Linked DNA regions of Homo sapiens. The protein of the gene in region 6 purifies or fractionates together with the protein of the main gene of each other region. This does not show direct contact. Each region holds a gene or a part of one and is shown on either strand. Other genes may lie near its edges.

The links.
Region 1: the proteins of PCDHA12 (region 6) and EIF2AK3 purify together in Homo sapiens (affinity purification with mass spectrometry; 2 studies listed by BioGRID and IntAct, with this or other methods). This does not show direct contact.
Region 2: the proteins of PCDHA12 (region 6) and NEK4 purify together in Homo sapiens (affinity purification with mass spectrometry; 2 studies listed by BioGRID and IntAct, with this or other methods). This does not show direct contact.
Region 3: the proteins of PCDHA12 (region 6) and KLRG2 purify together in Homo sapiens (affinity purification with mass spectrometry; 2 studies listed by BioGRID and IntAct, with this or other methods). This does not show direct contact.
Region 4: the proteins of PCDHA12 (region 6) and PAM16 purify together in Homo sapiens (affinity purification with mass spectrometry; 2 studies listed by BioGRID and IntAct, with this or other methods). This does not show direct contact.
Region 5: the proteins of PCDHA12 (region 6) and LONP2 purify together in Homo sapiens (affinity purification with mass spectrometry; 2 studies listed by BioGRID and IntAct, with this or other methods). This does not show direct contact.
Region 7: the proteins of PCDHA12 (region 6) and ABCB6 purify together in Homo sapiens (affinity purification with mass spectrometry; one large-scale study listed by BioGRID and IntAct). This does not show direct contact.

What each region holds. Positions count from the first base shown.
Region 1 is NC_000002.12:88,620,965-88,624,464, forward strand, and holds part of EIF2AK3 (eukaryotic translation initiation factor 2-alpha kinase 3 isoform 1 precursor), read right to left. Parts: intron 1-3,500. UniProt on the Homo sapiens protein: Metabolic-stress sensing protein kinase that phosphorylates the alpha subunit of eukaryotic translation initiation factor 2 (EIF2S1/eIF-2-alpha) in response to various stress, such as unfolded protein response (UPR).
Region 2 is NC_000003.12:52,746,941-52,750,440, forward strand, and holds part of NEK4 (serine/threonine-protein kinase Nek4), read right to left. Parts: intron 2,890-3,500; coding exon 2,752-2,889; intron 1-2,751. UniProt on the Homo sapiens protein: Protein kinase that seems to act exclusively upon threonine residues. Required for normal entry into proliferative arrest after a limited number of cell divisions, also called replicative senescence.
Region 3 is NC_000007.14:139,456,174-139,459,673, reverse strand, and holds part of KLRG2 (killer cell lectin-like receptor subfamily G member 2), read left to right. Parts: intron 1-3,500.
Region 4 is NC_000016.10:4,341,322-4,344,821, forward strand, and holds part of PAM16 (mitochondrial import inner membrane translocase subunit TIM16), read right to left. Parts: intron 1,971-3,500; coding exon 1,886-1,970; intron 184-1,885; coding exon 47-183; intron 1-46. Other genes in the region: CORO7-PAM16 protein, read right to left, coding at 47-183, 1,886-1,970. UniProt on the Homo sapiens protein: Regulates ATP-dependent protein translocation into the mitochondrial matrix. Inhibits DNAJC19 stimulation of HSPA9/Mortalin ATPase activity.
Region 5 is NC_000016.10:48,242,917-48,247,099, reverse strand, and holds the start of LONP2 (lon protease homolog 2, peroxisomal), read right to left. Parts: upstream 2,801-4,183; 5' UTR 2,712-2,800; coding exon 2,479-2,711; intron 2,241-2,478; exon of another isoform or gene 2,097-2,240; intron 1-2,096. UniProt on the Homo sapiens protein: ATP-dependent serine protease that mediates the selective degradation of misfolded and unassembled polypeptides in the peroxisomal matrix.
Region 6 is NC_000005.10:140,874,153-140,878,107, reverse strand, and holds the start of PCDHA12 (protocadherin alpha-12 isoform 1 precursor), read right to left. Parts: upstream 2,801-3,955; 5' UTR 2,636-2,800; coding exon 269-2,635; coding exon of another isoform or gene 257-268; exon of another isoform or gene 219-256; intron 1-218. UniProt on the Homo sapiens protein: Potential calcium-dependent cell-adhesion protein. May be involved in the establishment and maintenance of specific neuronal connections in the brain.
Region 7 is NC_000002.12:219,216,159-219,220,268, reverse strand, and holds the start of ABCB6 (ATP-binding cassette sub-family B member 6), read left to right. Parts: upstream 1-1,310; 5' UTR 1,311-1,595; coding exon 1,596-2,144; intron 2,145-2,461; coding exon 2,462-2,599; intron 2,600-3,436; coding exon 3,437-3,617; intron 3,618-3,803; coding exon 3,804-3,905; intron 3,906-4,088; coding exon 4,089-4,110. UniProt on the Homo sapiens protein: ATP-dependent transporter that catalyzes the transport of a broad-spectrum of porphyrins from the cytoplasm to the extracellular space through the plasma membrane or into the vesicle lumen.

The DNA.
Region 1 (3,500 bases), on a different chromosome or scaffold from region 6:
CAATCACCACCAAAAAGGCTGAGAAGATGGGAAAAGATGTGATTTACCTAAGGTTATGCACCAAATACAAAATTTTGAACAGGAGCAGAAATTCAGGTTTTTAACTCATTATTCTGTTAACTGTAAGTTTGCATAAGTGGCAACTACTATATTACTAAAACGTGCAGCTTTTTATTCCTCTCAGAAATCTCATAGATGTCGTTCATCCTGTAATTGCTCTGATTATGTCCTCAATCCAGGAGAAATGACTTTATGCCACAATGAATACGCAATAAAAAAAGAAAAACTGTGCTGACTTAAGTTACCCAGAACACCTGCCTATTTACAGTTAAGTTTATCAAATTCTGATAAGTGTATGCTAAATTTCTTCATAAAATCATTTTAAAGGAACTTTTATTTCCTGTGGAAGTTTCCGATGTGAAAGAAGACAAGCAGGTGATAGGAGAACATTGTATGGATTAAATAGTTTCTACATTAACAACTGCTTATTTTAAAATTTCAAATATCCTTTCTGGGGGTTGGGGAGAGGGCGTTATTTCACAAAACTATAAATGTGATTTGGTTGAACCTGTTTTTTTGGCGTAGCTGAGAATCCTTTGCCCAAACTTGTGCCCTCACTAAAGGAGGCATATGTTCTTGTTTAGAAACAAAGTAGTACTGATTAGACTATACTTCCTGGTCCTCACCTACTAAGTAAATCTTCAAGTCAAACCTCCTTTACTTAAACATATGACAAGACTAGCCATGCCCCAAATCATAACAAATATATCAAAAATTACCAACTATACTTTATAACTTTGGCATATCAGCTAGACCTTAAAGACATACAATCTAAGTTTTCAGTGGTACAGGTTTAACATAAGCGTAACAGATATCCTTTTCCTGTTACATTAAAACATTTTTGAAAGTACCTTTTCTACTTTATTCTATAATTTTTTTTTTTTTTTTTTGAGGCAGAGTCTCACTCTGTCACCCAGGCTGGAGTGCAGTGGCATGATCTTGGTTCACAGCAAACTCTGCATCCCGGGTTCAATTGATTATCCTGCCTCAGCCTCCTGAGTAGCTGGGACTACAGACGTGTGCCACCATGCCTGGCTAATTTTTGTATTTTTAGTAGAGACAGGGTTTCACAATGTTGGCCAGGCTGGTCTTGAACTCCTGACCTCAGGTGATCCGCCTGCCTTGGCCTCCCAAAGTGCTGTGATTACAGGCGTGAGCCACCACGCCCGGCCCTATGAAAGACTTTTAATCAAAATGGTCATTTACAAATAGAATGGAATTAAACACACAAATTTATCTCCTCCCCTCACATTTAGCTCTGCAACTTACAAGTTTTCTCCTTTGTATTTTAAAACAATTTGTAATAAAAATGTATAAGAAGTTCCCCTCTTACAAAAAAGGAGAAAAGCAAATGGAGTTATCAGGCAATGTTTAGGGAGTAAAGAGACACGCTGAAGCTACAGCTCACAGCAACTGATAAAGACAGGTCCTCTCTGCAATCTGGAAGATGCCTATGAATGCAGGGACCTGAGATCAGATAAAAAGCAATCTCCCATCCCTGTCCACATAGTCTAAGCACAGTCCTGGCATCAATTAAGCTAAAGACAATTGCAGACACAAAGGATAGTTCATTACTTGCCTGAAGTATATTTATTTTGGCTTATTACTTGCTTTGAAAGTTCTGTGTAAATTCTTCCTTAAAGGTGACTGTTAGTTAACTTTAAAAGTCTGGAGTTGGGTGAGTGAATAGGAATAGGACTATATGACTGAGCTTCCTTTCAACATGGTATTCTGATATGCTACTATTCAAGGGTCCTAGTAGTTAAAAAAACAAACAAAAAAATGATTATAAATCTGAAAGTCTGAGGAAGACTAGATTTCTGTACCTTTGTTTCACATCAGATCACTTTGTAAAACGACAGAGGAAAAAAAGAGAAATTATATCATCTTATATTTGCAAATATTTTCATGTTATCTCATTTAATAAAAAAATCAGTTTGCAGATGCACAAATTGAAGAAGCACCAGAGATTAATGTCAAATTTAGAAATACTTTTGTTAGAGAGGAATTAGAGCCAGAGGAAAAAGGAACATGTACTTTGCAAATTAGTGATAGTTAAGATAAAACTAGTTCTTTAGAACTTCTGAGATTGTCAGAATGTCTTCCCAACCCATCCCAAGAACCCCAAGTAACACTTTGCAATTTGCTATTTGTGTTGAAGTCAGAAGACTGGTAATTCACAAAATTACATAAACATATGTAAAATCTAACAGTGAGGTGATGAGACTTTCTTCCCAACTTTCTGCAATGACCATCCCACTTAAATATCAACTAATGTAATGTTTAGCAGAAGAACATGGACAACGAGATTGGTACCAGAAAAACAAGTTTATTTTAGCTAACTTTTAAAGAAAATAAATAGCTTATTCACTCATTCACATGCTTGATATGCAGAGTAAGCACTTAGAATGAAACTTGAAAATTCCATCAAGAGAAAAGTATCAATGAACTGGTGAATCTCGGATTGCTTCTTGAGTATCAAAAGACAACATGCAAAAATAAAGATAATTCCACACCTCCTCCTTTTTAAAAGTTTTGCCAGTACTGCAGTTCTTCACAGCTGTTCATAGTAAACGCTTGGTTAATTCAAATCTGTTCCCCTAATACTCCTTGAAACAAACAGAATTACCGGTCTATTATTACTGAACTAATTAATATTCTCTGGGTTTTTATCTTTTTTTAAGAGCATTTAGAAAAAACTTTTATAAACTGCGTATTTATCTCCTGTTGACTATCAACTTATTCAAGGTTTCTCAAACATTCCACACTATCTTAAGTCCACACTACAAGGCAGACCCCAAAACTGGGCTCTATCTCTTCCTAGGCAATTCTGTTTGGTGATCATGTATGCTCTTCAAGCCAAAATTCCTGTTTTCACTGCAATTTATGAGAAAGAAATGATCCTCCTGTTTGCTAAGTGGATCTTCTCTAACTACCTTCACCTCATCACCTGTTCCTTTCATTTTCCTTTTCTTTTTTTTTTTGAGACGGAGTTTCGCTCTTGTTGCCCAGGCTGGAGTGCAGTGTCACGATCTCAGCTCACTGCAACCTCCGCCTCCCAGGTTCAAGTGATTCTCCTGCCTCAGCCTCCCGAGTAGCTCGGATTACAGGCACCCGCCACCATGCCTGGCTAATTTTTTGTATTTTTAGTAGAGATGGGGTTTCATCATGTTGGCCAGGCCGGTCTCAAACTCCTGACCTCAGGTGATCCACCCGCCTTGGCCTCCCAAAGTGCTGGGATAACAGGCTGAGCCAATGCGCCCAGCCCCTTTCATTTTCATTCTATCTACACAGGCTCCCTCTTTTCAGTACATAAGTAAGTTCGGAGGTTCCTTCTCCTAAAAATTACCTCATCAGTGAGGAAAGGAGGGATTGGGGCAGAAGGGCCTGAATCTTTAACCTCTTGCAATTTGAGTATTGTCTCTGCTGCTTCATTTAAA
Region 2 (3,500 bases), on a different chromosome or scaffold from region 6:
GCAACCTGGTACATTGTAATCCAAAGTAAGTTGTCCATAAAAAGTGGCTTTTGTTTTTTAGCATGAAAACTTTCCTCAGTTTTAAAAACTGGTTTCCATATTGCAATTTAGTGTTACATGGAAGTTCTAAAATGACCCATCACAATGTAAAGTTCACAATATGGTTCAAATATAACAATGCAGAATTGAATATAGAGGTATACATAACCTTCCTCTTAGAAAACAAAAGAAGCGGGCCAGGCATGGTGGCTTGTGCCTGTAATCCCAGCACTTTGGGAGGCTGAGGCAGGCAGATCACAAGGTCAGGAGTTCGAGACCAGCCTGGCCAACATCGTGAAACCCCCGTCTCTACAAAAATACAAAAATTAGCTGGGCATGGTGGCACGCACCTGTAATCCCAGCTACTCAGAAGGCTGAGGTAGAAGAATTGCTTGAACCCGGGAGGGGGAGGCTGCAGTAAGCTGAGATCGCACCACTGCACTCCAGCCTGGGCAACAGAGTGAGACTCCATCTCAAAAAAAAAAAAAAAGAAAAGAAAAGAAAAGCAGTTGCAATTTCAAATTTTTGTGCAATGAAATTAAATCATAATGCAACAGTTAAAAAATAATGATTATAAAATGAAGCAAACACACACAAAAACACAAAATAATGAAGTCTTTTGAACATCCAAATGGCCAAACGCTCCATGCCTACTTTTAAAATTGTAAATGAAAATGAGAAGAAGCTGAGTGTGGTAGCCCACACCTGTAATCCCAACACTCTGGGAAGCCAAGTCAGGAAGACCACTGGAGGCCACGAGTTCAAGACCAGTCTGAGCAACAGAGTGAGACCTCCATCTCCATTTAAAAAAAAAAAAAAAGTCAGATGTAGTGATATGCCAGGTAGTCACAGCTACCCAGGAGGCTGAGGTAAGAGGATTGTATGAGTCCAGGAGGTCAAGGCTACCATGAGCTGTGATCATGCCACTGTCCTCTAGCCTGGGTGACACAGCAAGAGTGTCTCAAAAAAAAAAATTATTATTTTATTTAATTTTTTTTGAGACAGAGTCTCGCTCTGTCGCCCAGGCTGGAGTGCAATGGCGCGATCTCGGCTCACTGCAAGCTCCTCCTCCTGGGTTCACGCCATTCTCCTGCCTCAGCCTCCCGAGTAGCTGGGACTACAGGTGGCCGCCACCACGCCCAGCTAATTTTTTTTTTTTTTGTATTTTTAGTAGAGACGGCGTTTCACTGTGTTAGCCAGGATGGTCTCGATCTCCTGACCTCATGATCCGCCCGCCTCGGCCTCCCAAAGTGCTGGAATTACAGGTGTGAGCCACTGTGCCTGGCCAAAATTTTTTAATAAATTAAAAAGAAAATGAGAAGTTGTCTTTCTCAAAATGAATGTTTATTTGCAGTGTTGACAGGCAAAGACAAAATGCCGACATCAGTTATCCAAATGTTCTGATTTTTTTCTCTTCCTCCAAATAAAAATAATTGTTTTAATTCAATCACTTAAATTGTGGTTAATCTGAAACTACTGATGTTTGATTCAATTATTTTTAAAAATCTCCTCATAACTTTTCATAGGTTTTCCATTCTGAAAATGAACCAATGTTTTAAATGAATTCCAATTTAATACAAATTTATTTCCCAAGTAAACATCAGTTATTTGGATGTACCCTAAAAAGCACAATAAAAAGACCATTGAGCTTGGCATTAGATGCAGTCTTATGTGAGAAACTTAATTTCCCTGAGCCCAGTTTCATCATTTAAAAATGGATCTAATACCCACAGCCATATTGTATTACTATTTCAGGATTAGCTGAAAGAATACACTAAAAGTACTTAGGACTATGTCTGATGCATATTAATTAGATGCTCAGCCAGGCACAGGTGGCTCACACCCGTAATCACAGCACTTTGGAGGCCAAGGTGGGAGGATGATTTGAGCCCAGCCAGGAGTTTGAGACCAGCCTAGACAACATAGGGACACCCTGTCCCTACAAAAAATAGAAAAAATTAGCCAGGCGTGCTGGCGTATGCCTGTAGTCCCAGCTACTCGAGAGGGTAAGATTGGAGGATCACTTGAGCCTAGGAGGTGGAGGCTGCAGTGAGCTGAGATCACATCACTGCACTCCAGCCTTAGCAACAGAGCAAGGCCTTGCAGAAGGGGAAGAGGGGAGGGGAGGGGAGGATGGGAGACAATATTTTATTTTCCTTTTTTGTTTTTTTGAGATGGAGTCTTGCTCTGTCACCCAGGCTGGAGTGCACTGGGTCAATCTCAGCTCACTACAACCTCTGCCTCCCAGGTTCAAGCGATTCTCCTGCCTCAGCGTCCTGAGTAGCTGGAATTACAGGCTCGTGCCACCATGCCCAGCTAATTTTTGTATTTTTAGTAGAAACAGGGTTTCACCATGTTGGCCAGGCTGGTCTTGAACTCCTGACCTCAAGGGATCCTCCTGCCTCGGCCTCCCAAAGTGCTGGGATTACAGGCGTGAGCCACCATTCCTGGACGGGAGACAATATTTTCAAATGCTGTATCTAATAAGTAACTGGTATCTAGAATAAAGAATTCAAATAGATTATTTCTCCAAAGGAGAAATACTGGCCAAAGTATATAAAAAGATGCTCAAGGCTGGGCACGGTGGCTCACACCTGTAATCCCAGCACTTTGGGAGGTCGAGGCAGGCTGATCACTTGAGGTCAGAAGTTCGTGACCAGCCTGACCAACATGGTAAAACCCCATCTCTGCTAGAAAAACTGCAAAAATTACCTGGGCGTGGTGGCACACGCCTGTAATCCCAGCTACTCGGGAGGCTGAGGCTGGAGAATCACTTGAACCCAGGAGGCGGAGGTTGCTGTGAGCCAAGATTGTGCCACTGCACTCCAGCTTGGGCGACAGGGCAAGACTCTGTCTCAAAAAAAAAGAAAAAGAAAAACATGTTCAACATCATTGGTCATTAGGGAGATGCAAATCACAACCACTTCATACCTACTAGGATGACTATGTTCAAAACAATGAACAGTAACGAGTGTTAGCATGGATGCAGATAAACTGGAACCCTCATATATTGCTGGCAGAAATAAAATTATATGGTTGTTTTGGAAAACAATTTTGCAGTTTCTCAAAAAGTTTAATACATAGAGTTACCATATGACCCAGGAATTCTACCCCTAGGTACATACTCAACAGAACTGAAAATATATGTCCACACAGAAACTTGTATGCAAGTGTTCATAGCCGCATTATCCACATATAACCTTCCTCTTAGAAAACAAAAGTACCTAAAAAGTAGAAACAACCCAAATGTACATCAACTGATGAATGGATGAATAAAATATATATAGGCTGGGTGTGGTGGCTCACACCTGTAATCCCAGCACTTTGGGAGGCCAAGGCAGGCGATTCACTTGAGGTCAGGAGTTTGAGACCAGTCTGGCCAACATGGTGAAACCCCATCTCTACTAAAAATACTAAAATCAGCTGGGCATGGTGGTATGCACTTGCAATCCCAGGTACTT
Region 3 (3,500 bases), on a different chromosome or scaffold from region 6:
TATGCTGTGAATGGGGGAATATGCCAGGGCACCAGTAGCCTGTGAGGGCAAGAGGAGCTCAGTAGGGATCAGTTTCTGCTCAGCGCCTGGGCTGGGCCCTGAGGTGTTGGCGTTGAGATGGGAATGGGCTGTGCAAAGAAAGCACCCCAGGCTCCTGTACCAAACGACTCAGACTGGTTGTATCTGCAAATTGAAGGCCTGTAGGAATGTAGGTGGGACCAAAGGTGGTCTCTAGAGTGCCTAGAGTTAGGGCCAGGAGCCAAGCAGGGCGGGGATCATATTGTTGCAGGGACATAGTTCATCCCATTACTTACTTATGGAATCCCATCGCTTAAGACTGATGAACATAGCATTTTGTCCTGAGACAGACAGATTGAGCACAGCAAATGCCAACAGGAAGCCAGTAAAACGGGCCTCACATCAGACAGGTTCACCTCAGATGAGCTTAGAACTCCTTGTTGCCAATGGGGGGAGGTGGGTTTAACTATCCAAATTGGAAACAGAACCTGAGATAAAGAATTTAACAAAAAAATGCATACAGCATCAATCATTTGAAACATAAGTAAATCTGCAGAAAACATATCATAGTCTGGGTAAACCCCTTCCCTGCAAAAAGACCAACGCTAAGATTCAAGATCTAGGCAGTTAAAATCTGGAATATAATGATTGTGGAACTCTGGAATTTTCCTGAGTTCTGGACAAGGACCGGAAGCTCCTGCAGGTGCTGAGGCAGGGTGGGGAGGACAGGACACACACGCAGAAGCAGCGCGCACAAACCCCAGGAACGCACCAGGGCCAGGGTGCCCAGAGGTACAGGATAGACGTGGCTCATCTTCCCAGAAGCCTGTTTTGCTCAGGATTAGTGAAAAGTAGGAAGTTGTAAGTGCTCACCATTAGTTTAATAACAACTTTGCTTTGCAGAGTGGAGGAGGGAGGAAGCTACCTTAACAGCACACACTGAACTCGAGCCCGATGCTAATTTCAAAAAGATTAAACCATTGAATACATTTACATCCTAGGATTAAGAAAAGTAATTTGAAACATTTTAATATTAAAACAGACATGGATGAAGATAGAGAGTAGAATGGCTGTTGCCAGTGCAGCGGGGGATGGGGAGTTGTTTAATGAGGACAGCTTCAGTTTGGGGAGGTGAAAAAGTTCAGGAGATGGATGGTGATGATGGTTTTACAACAATGTGGATATACTTCATGCCCTTGAACTGTACACTTATCATGGTTAAAATGGTAAATTTTATGTCATTAAACTTTTTCTTTCTTTCTTTCTTTTTTTTTTTGAGACAGGATCTCTTGCTCTCTCACCCAGGCTGGAGTGCAGTGGTGCAATCATGGCTCAGTGCAGCCTCGACCTCCCGGGGTCAAGCCATCCTTCGGCCTCAGCCTCCTGAGTAGCTGGGAGTACAGGAGCGTGCCACCACACCTGGTTAATATTTGTATTTTTTGTAGAGACAGGGTCTCACTATGTTACCCAGGCTGGTCTCAAACTCCTGAGCTTGAGTGATCTGCCCTCCTCAGCCTCCCACAGTTCTAAGACCACAGCTGTGAGCAGCCATGCCTGGCCGTGAATCTTTTATCACAATTTTTAAAAAAGAAATGTATGAAGGCATAGGAAACAATTTTCTATAATTTTAAGACGTAAAATATGAGATTTTCAGTCCATTCTGCTCAGGATCACATTCCCTCTCCCCATATTAGTGGAAAAGTTGGAGAATCCACAGTTAAGGAGGCCTCAGGATCTTTTGCACAGAGCAGTCCTTTTAGCCATAAATTACTTAGTAGTTCCCAGAGTTTATTTATAACTCTGAACAATGCCTTCCCTACACCACCATTTTTGCTAACAATGAGATCAGGAGTCTCAAACGCAAGGAAAAGAAGAATGGAATGGAGTGGGTGGGTCTAGGCGGGGCTGGGGCTCGGGGGAGGCCTTCAGCTCCCGTCACCAGGAGGCCCAGAGGGGAAGGGTGAGAGAGGCAGATAGCTTGGGGCTCTGACAGAAGGACAGGGTCCTCTTGAGGTTGCTGTAAGCATCAAAGGGGCTCATGTGTGTAGGAGGCAGGTCACAGGCTTTGCCCATCACATGTCAGACGCGAGAGGACATGGGATGAGTGTGTACTAGGTGGCCGTGGCTTTATATGTTAGTATCTCAAGCCTCATCACAAGCATCTTCGTTTTACAGACGACCACACAGCGGCTCTGAAAGGTTGGGTAACTTGTCTAAGGTCATGTGGCTCACAAGTCATGGAGCCAGAATTTGCATATGGGGTAGCCTGGCTCCATCTCAGCCCCGGAAGAGGCACTGAGCCCTGGTGTGCCTTCCCAAACAGGCAGCTGAGTGCTCCCAGGAAGACGGTGTTGGGCCGCTCAGCCCTCTGACTCACACCTCAGAGCAGCCTGGGGCCCTCCCATCCTCTCCAAGTTTCCCTGCCCAGCCCCACCCTGGGCCCCAGTGTGTCCCCGAAGCACCAGCCAAGGAACAGCTGCCCAGTGTACATTCTCTGTTCCGTCCACTCACCACTCTCCATTTTCCTATGCACTCTGGTCTTTAGGATTCAAGAAGGGTAAGATTAGCAACCTTCAGCCTGGGAAGTTGCCCCTGACTTCTCTCTGGGCTGTTAACTGACTGGTGCTAACCTTGAGGGGCAGAAGATGGGTTTTCCGTGACACTTCTGGGATACACAGTGGCCTGATGGCCTGGTCTCACTGTGGCTCTGCTGATTTTTGGCAGTGAGCGCGGGGAGGCAGTTTCACTGAGTTGACCTACTGTGTACTGGGTTATCATAGTGCGATGCTGAGTAAGACAAGCTCCTGGCCCGCACCAGGTTCACCAACTAATACAGGAAAGTGACAAGGAGGCAAGCCATTAGAAGGCAGCACATGAGTGGTGGCACGCACCAGCAGTCCCAGCTACTTCGGAGGCTGAGGTGGGAGCATCGCTTGAGCCCAGAGGTTCAAGGCCAGCCTGGACAACGTAGTGAGATCCTGTCTCTTAAAAAATAAAAAAGAGAGGCTGGGTGCAGTGGCTTATACCTGTAATCCTAGCACTTTGGGAGGCCGAGGTGGGTGAATCATCTGAGGTCAGGAGTTCAAGACCAGCCTGGCCAACATGGTGAAACCCCATCTCTACTAAATTGGGCGTCATGGCAGGTGCCTGTAATCCCAGCTACTTGGGAGGCTGAGACAGGAGAATTCCTTGAACACGGGAGACGGTGGTTGCAGTAAGCCGAGATTGTGCCACTGCACTCCAGCCTAGGTGGCTGAGCAAGACTCCGTCTCAAAAATAAAAATTAAAAAAATAAAAATAAAAAAGAGACAGCTCTATTCTGTGAAAGTTGTGGAAACCAAGGGGAGGGAGGAGCACCTATTTCACCTTGGAGAGGGTCAGCCCAGTGTCCGTTAAAAAAGCCACCTTTAAATCAGTTCTGAAGGATGGAGGAGGTGGCAGCAACAGGACAATCATCACTCTAATTCCCAGGGCTTGTCTTT
Region 4 (3,500 bases), on a different chromosome or scaffold from region 6:
TGGCAGCCTCTCCCTCTCAAACTTTGGGGTGGCCCAGTGGCCTCACCTTCTGGACCTCCTCAGGGCTCAGCTTGGACACGTTGAGAATCTGCTGTGCCTCCTGGAGGCTGAGGCCGGAGAGGTTGGAAGCGGCTGCAGACCGGTGTCCAGCGCGTCCTCGGGCATCAGCTGCGGCCCGGCTGGCTGTGTGGACATGTGGGTGATCGCTCAGTCCTCAGCAGCCCACACTTCACCCTGGGCCTTCCGAGTTGGTGGCTCACCCCTGCCACCAGCACAGGATGAGAGACACAGGGACAGGTGGCTAGGAGCTGCCTCTTCTCCAGGAGTGGTTTCCTTTTTAGGGGGTAGAGGCTGGGAAAGTGAGGACAGACGTGCCTCACTGGAGGGTAAGGGCAGGATCTGACCGCTAATCCTGGCTCCTGGTCCCCAACCTAGACCATGAGATGACCCTGTCCCCCAACCCCCATATCCCAGGGGAACAGCAAATTGGGGAGCTTTAGGCTACGATGGAGACTGTATAGTGGGGCTGCGGGCATGAGAGGGCTCTGCAGGGGCCCAGCTGCCCACCTGTCACCTAGACCACCAAAGCCACTGCCTTGGGTGACCTCTCCCCTTTCAGTGACCCCAGAACCTAGAATCAGGAGCTGCTAAACTTTTCCTAAAGGCTCAGAGAGTAGCTATTTTAGGCTTTGCGGGCTAATGAGCCTACACTGGAACCATTCAACTCTGCCTTGAAAGCAGCCTGTCGGCCGGGCACAGTGGCTCACGCCTGTAATCCCAGCACTTTGGGAGGCCAAGGAGGGCAGATCACGAGGTCAAGAGATCGAGACCATCCTGGCCAAAATGATGAAAACCTGTAAAATACAAAATTACTAAAAATACAAAAATCAGCTGGGTGTGGTGGCACATGCCTGTAGTCCCAGCTACTGGAGAGGCTGAGGCAGGAGCATTGCTTGAACCCGGGAGGCAGAGGTTGCAGTGAGCCAAGATCGCACCATTGCACTCCAGCCTGGGCAACACAGTGAGACTCCGTCTCAAAAGAAAACAAAAGGGCTGGGTGCGGTGGCTCACGCCTGTAATCCCAGTACTTCAGGAGGCCGAGGTGGGCATATCACGTGAGGTTGGGAGTTCAAGACCAGCCTGACCAACACGGAGAAACCCCGTCTCTACTAAAAATACAAAATTAGCCGGGCATGGTGGCGCATGCCTGTAGTCCCAGCTACTCAGGAGGCTGAGGCAGAAGAATTGCTTGAACCCGGGAGGCAGAGGTTGCAGTGAGCCAAGATCGCACTATTGCACTCCAGCCTGGGCAACAAGAGCGAAAACTCCGTCTCAAAAAAAAAAGATTTATTTACAAAACCAGGGCCGGGCGCTGTGGCTCACACCTGTAATCCCAGCACTTTGAGGCAGGCGGATCACCTGAAGTCAGGCGTTCCAGACCAGCATGGCCAACATAGTGAAACCCCGTCTCTACTAAAAATACAAAAATTAGCCTGGTATGGTGTCGGGTGCTTGTATTCCCAGCTACTCAGGAGGCTGAGGGAGGAGAATCACTTGAACCAGGAGGCAGAGGTTGCAGTGAGCCAAGATTGCCCCACTGCATTCCAGCCTGGGCGACAGAGTGAGACTCCATCTCCAAAAAAAGAAAAAACAAGTTTACAAAATCAGGTATCCAGATGGGCCAGTGTGCCAGCTCCTGCCCTGGATGCTCTTGCTAACCAGGTACCACTGAAGAATGCCCCGGTCTGGCATCACCCCCCACCATGGGAAGTGCCTCAGGCCACGCACACTTCAGAACCGCCAGGCCTGAGGTGCCCATGGCTACGGGGAAAATCTGACCTGGAGAGGAACTCCCAGCCCACAGGGGAGACGGACCCATGCTTACCTGCAAACTCCTGCCGCAAGGCCCGTGCAAAGGCCCTGCCCACCACCTGCACGCCCATCACAATGATCTGGGCCAGGTACTTGGCCTGTGGGCAAAGCAGGCACCCGGTTAGCAGGCCACTCCCTGTGGGCCCACAGAGATGGGCCCTGGAAACGGCTGCCGAGGGGCAAGGCTCCCGGAGACCCGAGGTCATGAAGCACAGAGCTGCAGCCCCAGGCCAACCCCTCCAAAGCACCCTGAATGAAAGCTTCCATGGTGGGTGGCTTAGTTACTCACTGGACAGGCAGGCAGGCGGGTGAACTTGACCGAGCTCCCAGAGGCAGACTGGCCCCACCTCATCCTTCAGGAAAGGCGTAGAGGAGCAAGGCAAAGTGGCTGCAACCACCGGCTTCAGGAAGAAACACTGTGGTCTGGGAGCCAGAACACAGGGACAGCCCTGGACCTGGCAGTAACTCACTCTCGACCCTGGGGCCGACCATCACTCTTCCTGAGTTTCTGAGATCATCAGGCCCAACCTTTACTTTACCAACGGGGAAACAGATCTGTCCTAATTCTCCCAAGTCCGAAGACTTTAAGTCCATTCCATTCAATAAAACAAACTTACTATGCAAACCTGTTTCCATCTTCAAGGAGCTAAAAGCCCACTAGGAGGGTATTTAAACACACTATGGACCAAATCATGAGGGAGAGTCAGGCTCGTTCATTTGTGCAGCCATTGGTTCACCCATTCATTCAAACATCTGCTGAGAGTCTACTCTGCTCAGCACTTGAGCACAAAGCTACACAGAACCTGGTCCCTGCCCCGAGTCAGAGCACACTGCTGGCCTGGCAGGGAACCCCACTGTCACACACCAGGCTGAACATGCCGGAACACTGCACGTGTGATTCCATGCCCCGCAGAGGCCCTGGGGACTCACTAAGATGTGAGCGGAAGCAACAGAGTCGAGGGAAAACTCAAGACTGAGATGGGATTCGGTGAGAGGAGGGGGTTCTGTGTGAGAGGAGGGCGTTCCGTGAGAGGAGGGGGTTCCGTGAGAGGAGGGGGTTCCGTGAGAGGAGGGGGTTCTGTGAGAGGAGGGGGTTCTGTGTGAGAGGAGGGGGTTCTGTGAGAGGAGGGGGTTCCGTGAGAGGAGGGGGTTCTGTGTGAGAAGAGGGGGTTCTGTGTGAGAGGAGGGGGTTCTGTGTGAGAGGAGGGGGTTCTGTGAGAGGAGGGGACTGTGTGACAGGAGGGGGTTCTCTGAGAGGAGGGGACTGTGTGAGAGGAGGGGGTTCTGTGAGAGGAGGGGGTTCTGTGAGAGGAGGGGGTTCTGTGAGAGAAGGGGACTGTGTGAGAGGAGGGGGTTCCGTGAGAGGAGGGGGTTCTGTGAGAGGAGGGGGTTCCGTGAGAGGAGGGGATTGTGTGAGGGGGGGTTCTGTGAGAGGAGGGGGTTCCGTGAGAGGAGGGGGTTCCGTGAGAGGAGGGGGTTCTGTGAGAGGAGGGGGTTCCGTGAGAGAAGGGGGTTCCGTGAGAGGAGGGGGTTCCGTGAGAGGAGGGGGTTCTGTGAGAGGAGGGGGTTCCGTGAGAGGAGGGGGTTCTGTGAGAGGAGGGGATTGTGTGAGAGGAGGGGATTGTGTG
Region 5 (4,183 bases), on a different chromosome or scaffold from region 6:
ACTAGATGGTCTGATGAGTTCTTATAATGCCGGACTTCTATGAAGACTTTTCAATATATGTTTTCTAATTTAAATGATTAAATTTTAACATTGCTACTCAGTTAAAGGCAATAATATGAACATCAAGGATCAGATCACACAGTACCTGATTATTAGTGATTACTTTCAAGCAGGAGAATTGAGGATTGTTGCTTTGGAGGGATTTTCATAAAATAAATTAAAAACCTGAAGGGTATGGTGGCGCTTGCCTATAGTCCCAGCTACTCCAGAGGCCAAAGCAGGGGATAGCTTGAGTCCAGGAGTTTGAGACCAGCCTAAGCAACATAGTGAGACCCCATTTCTACAAAAAATTTAAAAATTAGCTGGGTGTAGTGGTGCACGCCTATAGTCCCAGCCACTCCAGAAGCTGAGGCAGGACGATCACTTGAGCCCAGGAGTTCAATCAAGGTTGCGGTGGGCTACGATCACGCCACTGCACTTCAGCGGAGGAGACAGAATGAGACTCTGTCTCAAAAAATACACAAATGAATAAATAATAAAAACCTTCCAAAATCTTGCCAGAATAATACCAACAAATAGTGAAACTTAAAATGTGACTAAATCGACTTTTCAAGTTCACAATGTGCCCATGGCTAATCAATACATATGCACAGTAGAAAGAAAATGAAGTCTAATAATGACCACTCTTGCCTAGACAGGGAACTAAGTGTGCCTGGGCACAGAAGGCAAAATAATTTGGGAAAAGTAAGCAGAAGGAGCAGAGTCGTATGTTGGGAAACTAGAATCCAATACAATTTATCAAAGAGTACTGAAACTTGGAATGTGACCAATTCCACTCAGGCAATAACCAAAGCAGGTCAGATGGGAGCCAAAATATTTTCCATGCTTGAGAAAATCAAGGCTTTTACAATATAAATGAATACTGGGCTGCTGTGGAAGGTTTGTTGGTCTTTGTTGCTTTGTTTTGCTTTCTTTTAACGGGGGTGGGGGGAGGTACCAGTCTCCTTTGAGAATCTGAAGAAAGCAAAGGATTCTCCTAAAAAAATGTACATAGTCACAAGATTTTGAGGAAAAATAAGACATGTCCAACCCTCCGGAAATCCATTCAGAGTCAGGAACCCCTAATTTAAAAATAAGGGATAACTGCCAGGAAAGGAGAAGCTCTAAACTGAAAACACAACACCTCCAGTAGAGTTAGGAATAGGAGGCGGGTGCTTGGCAGGTGAGTTTGAAGATACTTGTTGAGAGCATACGATATACCAGCATTGTCCAATAAAAATATAATGTGGACCACATATAAAATTTTAGTGGCCACATTATAAAGTAAAAACAGCAGAAATCTTAACATTTTATTAACCCCAAGTACTCAAAATATTACCTTTCCAACATTTAATCCATATAAAATGTATTAATCAAAAAGTTTTTTCAAAATCTGGCGTGTATTGTACACTTACAGCACATTTAGGGTGACCAACCTCCTGGTTTCCCTGGGACGGAGGGGCTAAAACATAGGACTTTCAATGCTAAAACAGACAATCGCAGCAAACCAGGACAACTGGCAATTCTATCATCTCAATTTGACGAGCCACATGCACTACACAGTACTGGACAGCAAAGTCATCCATCATGCATGGTGCAAAGTGGAATATACACATTATTCAATTTATTCTTCATAACTTGCCTAAGAGATGGATGCTGTCAGTTTCCAAATTGCAGAATAAAAGAAATAGAGGTTAAAGCTCTCACCCAAAGTCACACCAATAGGGCGAGGGTACTGGGCAATATAGTAGTAAGCCTGGGGCCTAAGAAATGTTATGAGTGAAGGAGCAGAGGTGAGAAGCTAGGAAAGTTCCAGAAAGGGGGACCAGCGAAAATGTGAGCAGTAAAGGCCCTTTACAAAGGGAAACAGAAGGATTAGGGGGAGAAGGAGAAGGGTGGCAGGGAGTATAGAAGAAAGGCACCCACAAATAGTGCAGTTTAGGAATGAAACAGGAAAAGTTAAAACTCACGGAGCAGAGAATGCCTCAGCGGACAAAAATGATGGGTGACAGAAAAGGGGAGGCGGATAGGAGTAAAGGGCAGTGGGGAGAAAGGTGAAAAGCGAAGGCAAGTGAAGGCAGAGATCACCGGGGAGAAAGAAAGGGCCTGGAAAGTTAAAAGCACTGGCCTAGGAGGCTGAAGACCGAGGGCGAGGAATTGCGGAGAGGGGGAAGAGGATTCAAATTAAATTATCCAGAACGGTAGGGAACTGCGTAGTTTCACCAGGTGTCAGGCACTACTTCATGAACGATCTCATTCATGGTCATGGGGCAGGTATCTGACATCCCCATTTTGCAAGTGATAGCACCAGAGAGGCGGAACCGAGCCGCGAAGGCCGCCCCGAACTGAGCCTCGCGCTCAAGGCAGGCCGTGGCCTGGGCCCAGGTCCCCGGAGGAGGCCGCGCCGCCCGCCGCCGCCGCGGGGGCAGCCAGGCCTACCTGTGCAGCGGCGGCAGGTCCTGCGCGTCGCTGGCGGGGTCAGGCGTGTTGGGGATGACGCCCAGGATGGTGCTTTGCAGCGACGTGCCCTTCAGAAGGCGGCTCCGCACCAGCTGCAGGTTGCGGGCCGAGTCCACGCTGGTGCGCATGGTGGAGCCGGGCAGCAGGACGCCCTCGTGGGTGAGCAGCAGCGGGAGGCGACTGGGGATCTGGATGGGGCTCACTGATGACATGCTGGCAGCCTTTCGCACTGGGGGCTGTCAAAAAGAGCCAGACAGACAGCTGCCCCCGGCCTGCCCCGCAGTCACCAAACCTCAGACCCGCCTCCACGCCTCCGCTTCCGGCTACGCGCTACGGTCCGTCCCCGGGCCCAAAAGCCATGGCTTCGCGCTGCTCTCTAGGAGAGCCTCCCGGTAAGACTTGAGCGTCCTACCTATGCGGAAAGACGTGCACTCAAGCGTGCAGCGACCTTCGCCTCACTTACAGAGTATATTTGGAAGGATGATCTTATTTGAATTGTATATACTTGAAGTGTTTTTAACGTTTTCTTCGATTTTTTACATATACTTGAAGTGTTTTTAACTTTTGATTCGAACTAATTATTTATTTATTTATTTATTTATTTATTCTGAGACAGATTCTCGCTCTGTCGCGGAGGCTGGAGTGCAATGGCGCGATACCCACGGCTTGCAGCCTCTGCCTCCCGGGTTCAAGCGATTCTCCTGCCTCAGCCTCCCGAGTAGCTGGGATTACAGATGCCCGCCACCACACCCAGCTAATTGTTGTATTTTTAGTAGGGAGGGGATTTCACCATGTTGGCCAGGCTGGTCTTTAACTCCTGACCTCAAGCGATCCGTCCACCTCGGCCTCCCAAAGTGCTGGGATTACAGGCGTGAGCCAACGTGCCCGGCCCGAATTGATTTTAGATGTACAAAACTACAGCAGAGTTCCTATATACCTTTCACCCAGTTTCGTCTGTTATCATCTTACATAATCATAGTTCAATGATCAAAACCAGGAAATTAACATTATTATCGTTTAACCTATAGGCCTTACCCAAATTTTGCCAGTTTTCCCACTAATGTCCTTCATTGGATCTGGTCCAGGATCCAATATCCAGGATCCTGTTGTGAAATCTCCTAGGTGTTTTGTTATGAAATCTCCTAGGTGTTCTCTAATCTGTGGCAAGTCCTCAATTTTTTTTTTTTTTTTTTTTTTTTGAGACGGAGTCTCGCTCTGTCACCCAGGCTGGAGTGTAGTGGCGAGATCTCGGCTCACTGCAAGCTCCGCCTCCCGGGTTCATGCCATTCTCCTGCTTCAGCCTCCCGAGTAGCTGGGGACTACAGGCACCCGCAACCACGCCCGGCTAATTTTTTGTATTTTTAGTAGAGACGGGGTTTCGCCATGTTAGCCAGGATGGTCTCAATCTCCTGACCTCGTGATCTGCCCGCCTTGGCCTCCCAAAAGTGCTGGGATTACAGGCCTGAGCCACTGCGCCCGTCCAATTTTTTTTTTTTTTACAACCTTGATACTTTTATTTTTTTTCTGTTTTTAATTTAATTTTATTTTTTATTATAGTTTAAGTTCTAGGGTACATGTGCACAACGTACAGGTTTGTTACATATGTATACATGTGCCATGTTGGTTTGCTGCACTCACTAACTCGTCATTTACATTAGGTATATCTCCTAATGGTATCCCTTCC
Region 6 (3,955 bases):
TTTTCAAGGTTCATCAGTCATATAAAATATTATAGAAAAAGAAAAATATTAAGTGTGGTGCTCCATGGCCTCCATTGTACCTACATATTTCCTTCATTAATGTTAGACAAATACATAAAAGTTCAAAATGAGTAAGAATGACCAAGAAAGATGAGACATTCGATAGTTTAAAGGATAGAATCATAAAGAAAAATGAGAGAATGTAGTTATAACCTAAACGGAAGTTCTTCAAGGAAACAAATATATCTAAATAATATTAATAACTTACTTCACTGGGAGGATTTAAACAATCTTCTCGAGACAGCTGAAGGCTTGGGCTGAAGGCCATGAGGTCCGTCTTGGGCGGGCTCTCTGCAGAGCACACCCTCTGCCTCCTCTGCTGCGAGTAAGACCAACTCCCCACGGCGCTGGAGCACACCAGCGTGGGCTTGCCCGGCGCGCACCGGCTCACGGTGGGCGGCGCTGAGCAACGCAGCGCAGTGTACAGCAGCAGCGTGAGCACCAGCAGGCTGGACACCGCACAGATGGCGATGATGAGGTACACGTTAATATCCACCAGAGCCGCTTCGGGATCCACAGCGCCCACTGAGGCCCGCGACGACGTCTTTGGGGCCTGGCCGTTCTCCACCAGCGACACCAGCACCGTGGCCGTGGACGTCAGCGCGGGCTCACCGTGGTCCTTCACCAGCACCAGCAGGCGGTGGCGCGGAGCGTCCGCCTCATCCAGGATGCGTGTCGTGCTGATCTCGCCAGTGTACAGCCCCACGTGGAACGGGATGTGCGCGCCGACCGCCGCCGGTTGCAACTCGTAGGACAGCCAAGCGTTATAGCCGGAGTCAGCGTCCACCGCGCGCACTTTCGCCACCACGTGGCCCGCACCCACCGACCGCGGTACCAACTCGCTAACTGCGCCTCCTGCGCTGCCAGCCGGAGTCGCCAGCAGTGCCGGCGCGTTGTCGTTCTCGTCCAGCACGAACACCTGCAGCGTCACGTTGCTGCCCAGAGGCGGCACGCCGGCGTCGCGCGCGCTCACCTGGAACTGCAGCAGCTCCAGCTCCTCGTGGTCTAGCGGCTGCAGCGCGTACACCTTGCCGCTCTCCGCGTGCACCGACACGTAGCTCGACAGTGCGTGCTCGCCCACCCGCCGCTCCACCAGCGAGTAGGACACCAGCGCGTTCTTCTGCGCGTCCGCGTCCCATGCCGACACCGTGAAGATGTGGCAGCCCGGCGGGTTGTTCTCCTTCACGAACACTGTGTACTCGGGCTGCGCGAACGCAGGCGCATTGTCGTTCACGTCGGCCACCTCCACGGACACTCTAGCCGTGGCCCACAGCGAAGGCGAGCCCCCATCCCGCGCAGTCACCACCAGCTCATAGGCCGACACGCTCTCGCGGTCCAGGGCGCTGTCCAGCACCAACGAGTAGTAATTCTTGTAGGTGGACACCAGCTTGAAGGGAACATGAGGTGTCAGTGAGCAGATGACCTGTCCATTGGCTCCAGAGTCACGATCCGACACGCTAATCAGGGCAATGACGGTACCCACCTGAGCATCCTCTTGCACAGGGAGCGACAGTGAAGTAACCATTACTTCAGGGACATTGTCATTCACGTCCAGAACTTCCACCAGGACCATGCTGTGACCTGCCATGGAAGGAATCCCTTTATCAATGGCGTTAACCTGAATTTCATAGGCATTATTCTCTTCAAAATCCAGTTCACCATAAATTCTAATTTCACCTGTGTCTGGATTTATTGAAAACATACATTTCTCACTCACTGGCAAAATCATTTTGATCCCATAGGAAATTTCTCCATTAAGTCCTTCGTCTGGATCGGAAGCATTTAGTTGGATCACTCTTGTGTCGTTTTGGACATTTTCAGACAACACTACTTTATAGCTGGGCTTATCAAACGCCGGACCATTGTCATTCACATCCAGGACGGTTATTTGAATCTGGACAGACCCTGTTAGTTCTGGTTTACCGCCATCGATTACCATCAGCAATAAATTGAGTTTTGGCGTTTGCTCTCTGTCCAATAACTTCCGAAGAACTAATTCAGGCAATATACTTTTATCTTTTTTTGTTTTTATTTTAAGCTCAAAATTCTCATTTAGACTTAACGCATAGGTCAAAAGAGAGTTTACGCCGATATCCGCATCAGAAGCGCCCTCTAGAGGAAAATGAGAGTCCAGAGGCGCAGATTCAGAAACAGGTACCTTTTGTTCCCTTTCTCTGAACACCGGCGGGTTGTCGTTAATGTCCTTCACCTCCACGTCCACATGGAAAACCTGCAGCGGCCTGTCCACGATCACCTCCAGGTGGATACTGCACTCCGCGCTCCGCCCGCACAGCTTCTCGCGGTCGATCCGAGAATTCACAAACAAAATGCCATTCTGCAGATTTACCTCCAGAAGGTCCCCGTGTCTTTTGGACGCCACCCGGAACAGGCGCGGCACCAGCTCCGCCAGCTCCAGCCCCAGGTCCTGAGCGATGCGGCCCACGAAGGTGCCGTGTTTGGCCTCCTCGTAGACGGAGTAGTGGAGCTGGCCGCTCCCCACCTCCCAGGCTGCAAGGAGCAGAAGCGAGAGCAGCAGACGCTGGGATCCCGGGCCTCTTGGTCCGATAATCACCATTGCAGAAAATGAGGGCCTCTGAGTTGGGACAATCAGTTTTAAGGGATCGCTTGCCTGAGGTATTTTATGAGCAGTCACCCTTTTCTGTAAGTACATATTTAGTAAATTTTTTCCAGCATCACAGTCATTATGGAGTCGATCCTATTCCGTGAATGATTGGAATGTGGGTGCGGAGAAAAAAATTTTCCTGTTTCACCTTCTGAGTGTAGAGCGACATCATGTGACTGATTATGTAAGTACAAGAAAGATCCTGAGGTTCTTTTCGGTTTAGCCACTTCCTGGGTCACTCTTAATTCTAATGTTTCGACTTTGGGTTATTTTTCACGGATCATTTATAAATGCGGGTTTAGTTAATATACATGATATTAGTAACAAAACATCAACAATTTTATTACGCTGTAGCTTAAAAATGTTTTCTGCTTCAAAGTAGAAATCTTTCAAATACAGTAGGCCAGAACCTACACTTTATCATGGAAAATGATATACAGAATAATATACAGCACCCCTCCCCTTATATAGCTTACAATTCCGCTGTTTCAATAACTTTTAACCTTCACAAGCACTCCATCGTAAGATTTTAGAGAAAGTTAGGAATTTGTATTTAACAAAGGATAAGAAACTAAAATATGTCTAATACCAAACAATATTTCATTTATATAAATTGTCTTATTCATAAATCTGATGAAAGTTAGAATTCATCATAAATATGGAGAGCGTTATTGTTTGGTTCCTTGATGCTTGAATGTGATAACTTTTCACATAACTGCTCTCATTTCCATAACATGTTAAAACAAATCTCAGGAATAGATTCTGGAAAGTTTTACTCTAGCAAAAGTAAAGCACTTTAATGTAAAATGTTTAGTTGAAGCCTCCAAATTTCACACTATCCCAAAGCAACAATGGAGCACTAAAATGCGAAAGATCTCTTAAAGGGTTTTGGAGCCTAATCTCATTGACTAAAGTCAAGAGAATGTGAACTTGATATCAACCTTTTGCTTTTTCTCTAAATCTTCCCCTACAGGTCATTTAGTAGTTAGGACATGCTTCTCTTCAGAAAATCAGAATGGTGACTGTTATGCAAGGGGGCATCAAAAGACCTTTCATGAGTTTATTCATTAATTCAAGATCAGCTTTAAGAGAAAAAAACAGATAAGATCCTACAACTCATTGTGAACAAGTACACATAGATTTTGTAAGTCTATTAATACTCAAGTCAAAATCTTTAAACCAATAATTTGTTGCCATTCATTCCTACTGCATATAATAATAAAGGCAACTGAAATATGACACCTTTACAACACCAGGAAAGAGTAACCAAGA
Region 7 (4,110 bases), on a different chromosome or scaffold from region 6:
GAATTTGGGGCCTAGGAACCGAGGGCACACGGGACTCTAGCCTCATCCCCAGGACCCCCTTGGCTCAGAGTGTGGTGCTAGAAACTGGCCCCCAGCCCAGCCCCAGTACTGCCACCTTTACACCTACCCCTGCAAGTCCCCAGAGGGCTGCCCACGATAGAAGCTGCCAAGCAGGGAGAACCTGTGCCAACTGTGGAGTGGGGAGGTTGGGCCTGGACCCTCAACCCCTGCAACCTTCCCTAGCCCCCTCAATAGATGAGCAGGTCAGGCTGTGGCCCTTACCTCACCCGCAGTTCTCGCCCAGTGCTGCAGCCGGCTCACCTCTCTCCGCTTCTTGCACATCACTGGCCTGTGTGTGCTGCTTGCTCCTGTTCTGTTCGCTTGCTCCCGTTCCGTTCGGCTTTTGCTTTGCGTTAGGGTGAAGACCCTAGCGTCCAGCTCCCCTCAACGCTATATTTTGACACTAAAAAAGAAGGTTTCTAAATTGTAGGAGCAGGATGGAAATACTTTGCTGCCCTTGCCATCTTTTAGGATGGGCCCCCAGGAGACTGAGGTCTTCCTGGGCCCTCATTGCTGCTTATCGTACCCCCCATCACCTGCACATGGGACAGACCGGGCTGGAGGGTGACCTTGGCTGTGTGCGTCCCAGCAAAAGAGCTCTGGCCCGCATCTCGCTGTGCCCTGAAGGGGGATGAAGGGCGATGCCTCGCCCGAGGCTTTGGGCTGCTGCACTGCATGCTGGGACTGCTCCTACTCTCTGTCCCACCCCTCACCCAGCTGTGGTCCGGCTTTGGGAGAGTGGTGAATTGCGCTGCCCGAACTCGGAGCGGAGCAGGGTAGGGACCGTGTACAGCTTGATAACCCTTAATAAAAAGGGAGTTTGACCAGACTTCTTGTTGTCTCGCGCGGCTAGAATCCTGGGAACAAGAGAAATGGGATGGGGACTCTGCCGGGGTCTAGAAGAAAGTATGTTTAGGCCGTCGCTCAGATACGCTGAGCAAGGCGGCTGGCGGAAGGGCAGCTTCCGACCCACAGTTCCGTGGAGGTCTGTGTCCTGCCCCGAGCCAGGATTCCGTGAGGTCTGTTTCCAGCCCCGAGCCACGATTCCGTGGAGGTTTCCAGCTCGGCCTGGTCGTCAGATTTCCCGCCCTGGGCACGTGACCAAGCCGGCTCTGCTTCTCTAATTTGCATTCGTTGCCTGCACCATTCCCCCCGCTCCCCCCTCGGAGACATTTGGCCAATGGGAGCCGTGGGTAGGGGCTGTGGGCGGGGCTACAGCCGTGGAGCGCGGTGCGAGTCCAACACCGAGCATTCCCGTGGGCCTGCAGTTGGCAGGAGGGTCCCGGGCCCAGAGCCAGCGGGGCCGTGCTGAGACGGCGTACGTGCCCTGCGTGAGTGCGTGGCGGCGGCGCGTGCGCTAGGGGAGTGGGCGGTGAGGCCTGGTCCACGTGCGTCCCTTCCCGGGACCCCCGCAGCTTGGCGCCCAGCGGCTACGTGAGCCAAGGCACCCGGATGTCCGCGCCCCTCTCCGAGTGACCAGTCCCGGCCTCCGGTCCCGCAGTGCCCGCAGCCTCGGCCGGCGTCCACGCATTGCCATGGTGACTGTGGGCAACTACTGCGAGGCCGAAGGGCCCGTGGGTCCGGCCTGGATGCAGGATGGCCTGAGTCCCTGCTTCTTCTTCACGCTCGTGCCCTCGACGCGGATGGCTCTGGGGACTCTGGCCTTGGTGCTGGCTCTTCCCTGCAGACGCCGGGAGCGGCCCGCTGGTGCTGATTCGCTGTCTTGGGGGGCCGGCCCTCGCATCTCTCCCTACGTGCTGCAGCTGCTTCTGGCCACACTTCAGGCGGCGCTGCCCCTGGCCGGCCTGGCTGGCCGGGTGGGCACTGCCCGGGGGGCCCCACTGCCAAGCTATCTACTTCTGGCCTCCGTGCTGGAGAGTCTGGCCGGCGCCTGTGGCCTGTGGCTGCTTGTCGTGGAGCGGAGCCAGGCACGGCAGCGTCTGGCAATGGGCATCTGGATCAAGTTCAGGCACAGCCCTGGTCTCCTGCTCCTCTGGACTGTGGCGTTTGCAGCTGAGAACTTGGCCCTGGTGTCTTGGAACAGCCCACAGTGGTGGTGGGCAAGGGCAGACTTGGGCCAGCAGGTGAGGGACTCTGTGGGAAGGGGGAAGCCTCTGCTGGCCGGGCTTGGGAGAAAGCACTGCATGTCCAGTCACACTGCTTCCAGGCTTTAGGATGCCTCTAAGCAAAGGGAGAAGGGAGGGGCTGAGTCCTGCCGGGAGCTGATAGCCAGCTGGTGGGGTGTGTCTTTGCTGAGTCACTGTGGTTTTGCTTTTTTTTTTTTTTTTAAGCCTGTAAGTGCTGAATGTGTTCATGACACCAGTCCCCGGCCCTATTATAAGTAGTAATACAATGAAATTTTATCCTCAATGATACTCTCTCCACTTATATTTCATTCTAGGTTCAGTTTAGCCTGTGGGTGCTGCGGTATGTGGTCTCTGGAGGGCTGTTTGTCCTGGGTCTCTGGGCCCCTGGACTTCGTCCCCAGTCCTATACATTGCAGGTTCATGAAGAGGACCAAGATGTGGAAAGGAGCCAGGTACACCTCAGTTTCTTTTTTTTTTTGGAGACGGAGTCTTGCTCTGTCACCAGGCTGGAGTGCAGTGGCGTGATCTCAGCTCACTGCAACCTCCACCTCCCGGGTTCAAGCGATTCTCCTGCCTCAGCCTCCTGAGTAGCTGGGACTACAGGTGCATGACACCACACCCAGCTAAGTTTTGTATTTTTAGTAGAGACAGGGTTTCACAGCATTGGCCAGGATGGTCTCGATCTCTTGACCTCGTGATCCGCCTGCCTCAGCCTCCCAAAGTGCTAGGATTACAGGCGTGAGCCACTGCGCCTGGCCTCTTTTTGTTTTTAAGACGGAATCTTGCTCCGTCACCCAGGCTGGAGTGTAGTGGCGCGATCTCAGCTCACTGCACCCTCTGCCTCCTGGGTTCAAACAATTCTCGTGCCTCAGCCTCCCAAGTAGCTGGGATTACAGGTGTGTACCCGGCTAATTTTTGTATTTTTAGTGGAGATGGGGTTTCACCATGTTGGCCAGGCTAGTCTTGAACTCCTGACCTCAGGTGACCCACCTGCCTCGGACTCCCAAAGTGCTGGGATTACAGGCATGAGCCACTGCACCAGACCCCACCTCAGTTTCTGAATCCTGGAGTCTCTTCATTTCATTCCCTGTCATCATTCCTTCCCCCAAAATGAAATGCTTCTTTTCCAAATCTCAGTTTGCAACTTAGTTTTTCTGACCCCATCAAGGATCACTTGTGGGTCTGAGATACCTGGGAGCTGTAACCCCATAGGTTTTTCCCTGAAGGGTTTCTGGCTAGTGCACTTACTTGATTTCTGAGCTCCCTTCCTACGTGTTTCACCATCCTAGGTTCGGTCAGCAGCCCAACAGTCTACCTGGCGAGATTTTGGCAGGAAGCTCCGCCTCCTGAGTGGCTACCTGTGGCCTCGAGGGAGTCCAGCTCTGCAGCTGGTGGTGCTCATCTGCCTGGGGCTCATGGGTTTGGAACGGGCACTCAATGTGTTGGTGCCTATATTCTATAGGAACATTGGTGAGCAGGAGGAGCACCAGCTCAGTGTGCTGGTCCTTCATCAGCCTGGTGGCTGGGATGGTCCTTACCTAGGGAGGTGGGACAGAGCTGGGTGGTCAGAAAGAGACTGTGGCTGGTACCTGGGGCCATTTTGCCTGAAGAGAGTCCTGGGCGCCATAAGTGGGTTCTGACTCGTTTCCTCCACAGTGAACTTGCTGACTGAGAAGGCACCTTGGAACTCTCTGGCCTGGACTGTTACCAGTTACGTCTTCCTCAAGTTCCTCCAGGGGGGTGGCACTGGCAGTACAGGTATGAGAGACTCCGCCCTCACCCTGCTAGGTATAGGTCCCTCCCACAGGCATTCCCTCAGCATCCGCCTCTCCCAGCATTCCTCCCCAGCCCCCATGTACTCTCAGACCTTTCACATCCTGGTGCTGGGCTGACGTCCCTCAGCTCCCAGGCCCTACTGAGGCGTCCCCCGGCTCCCTGCAGGCTTCGTGAGCAACCTGCGCAC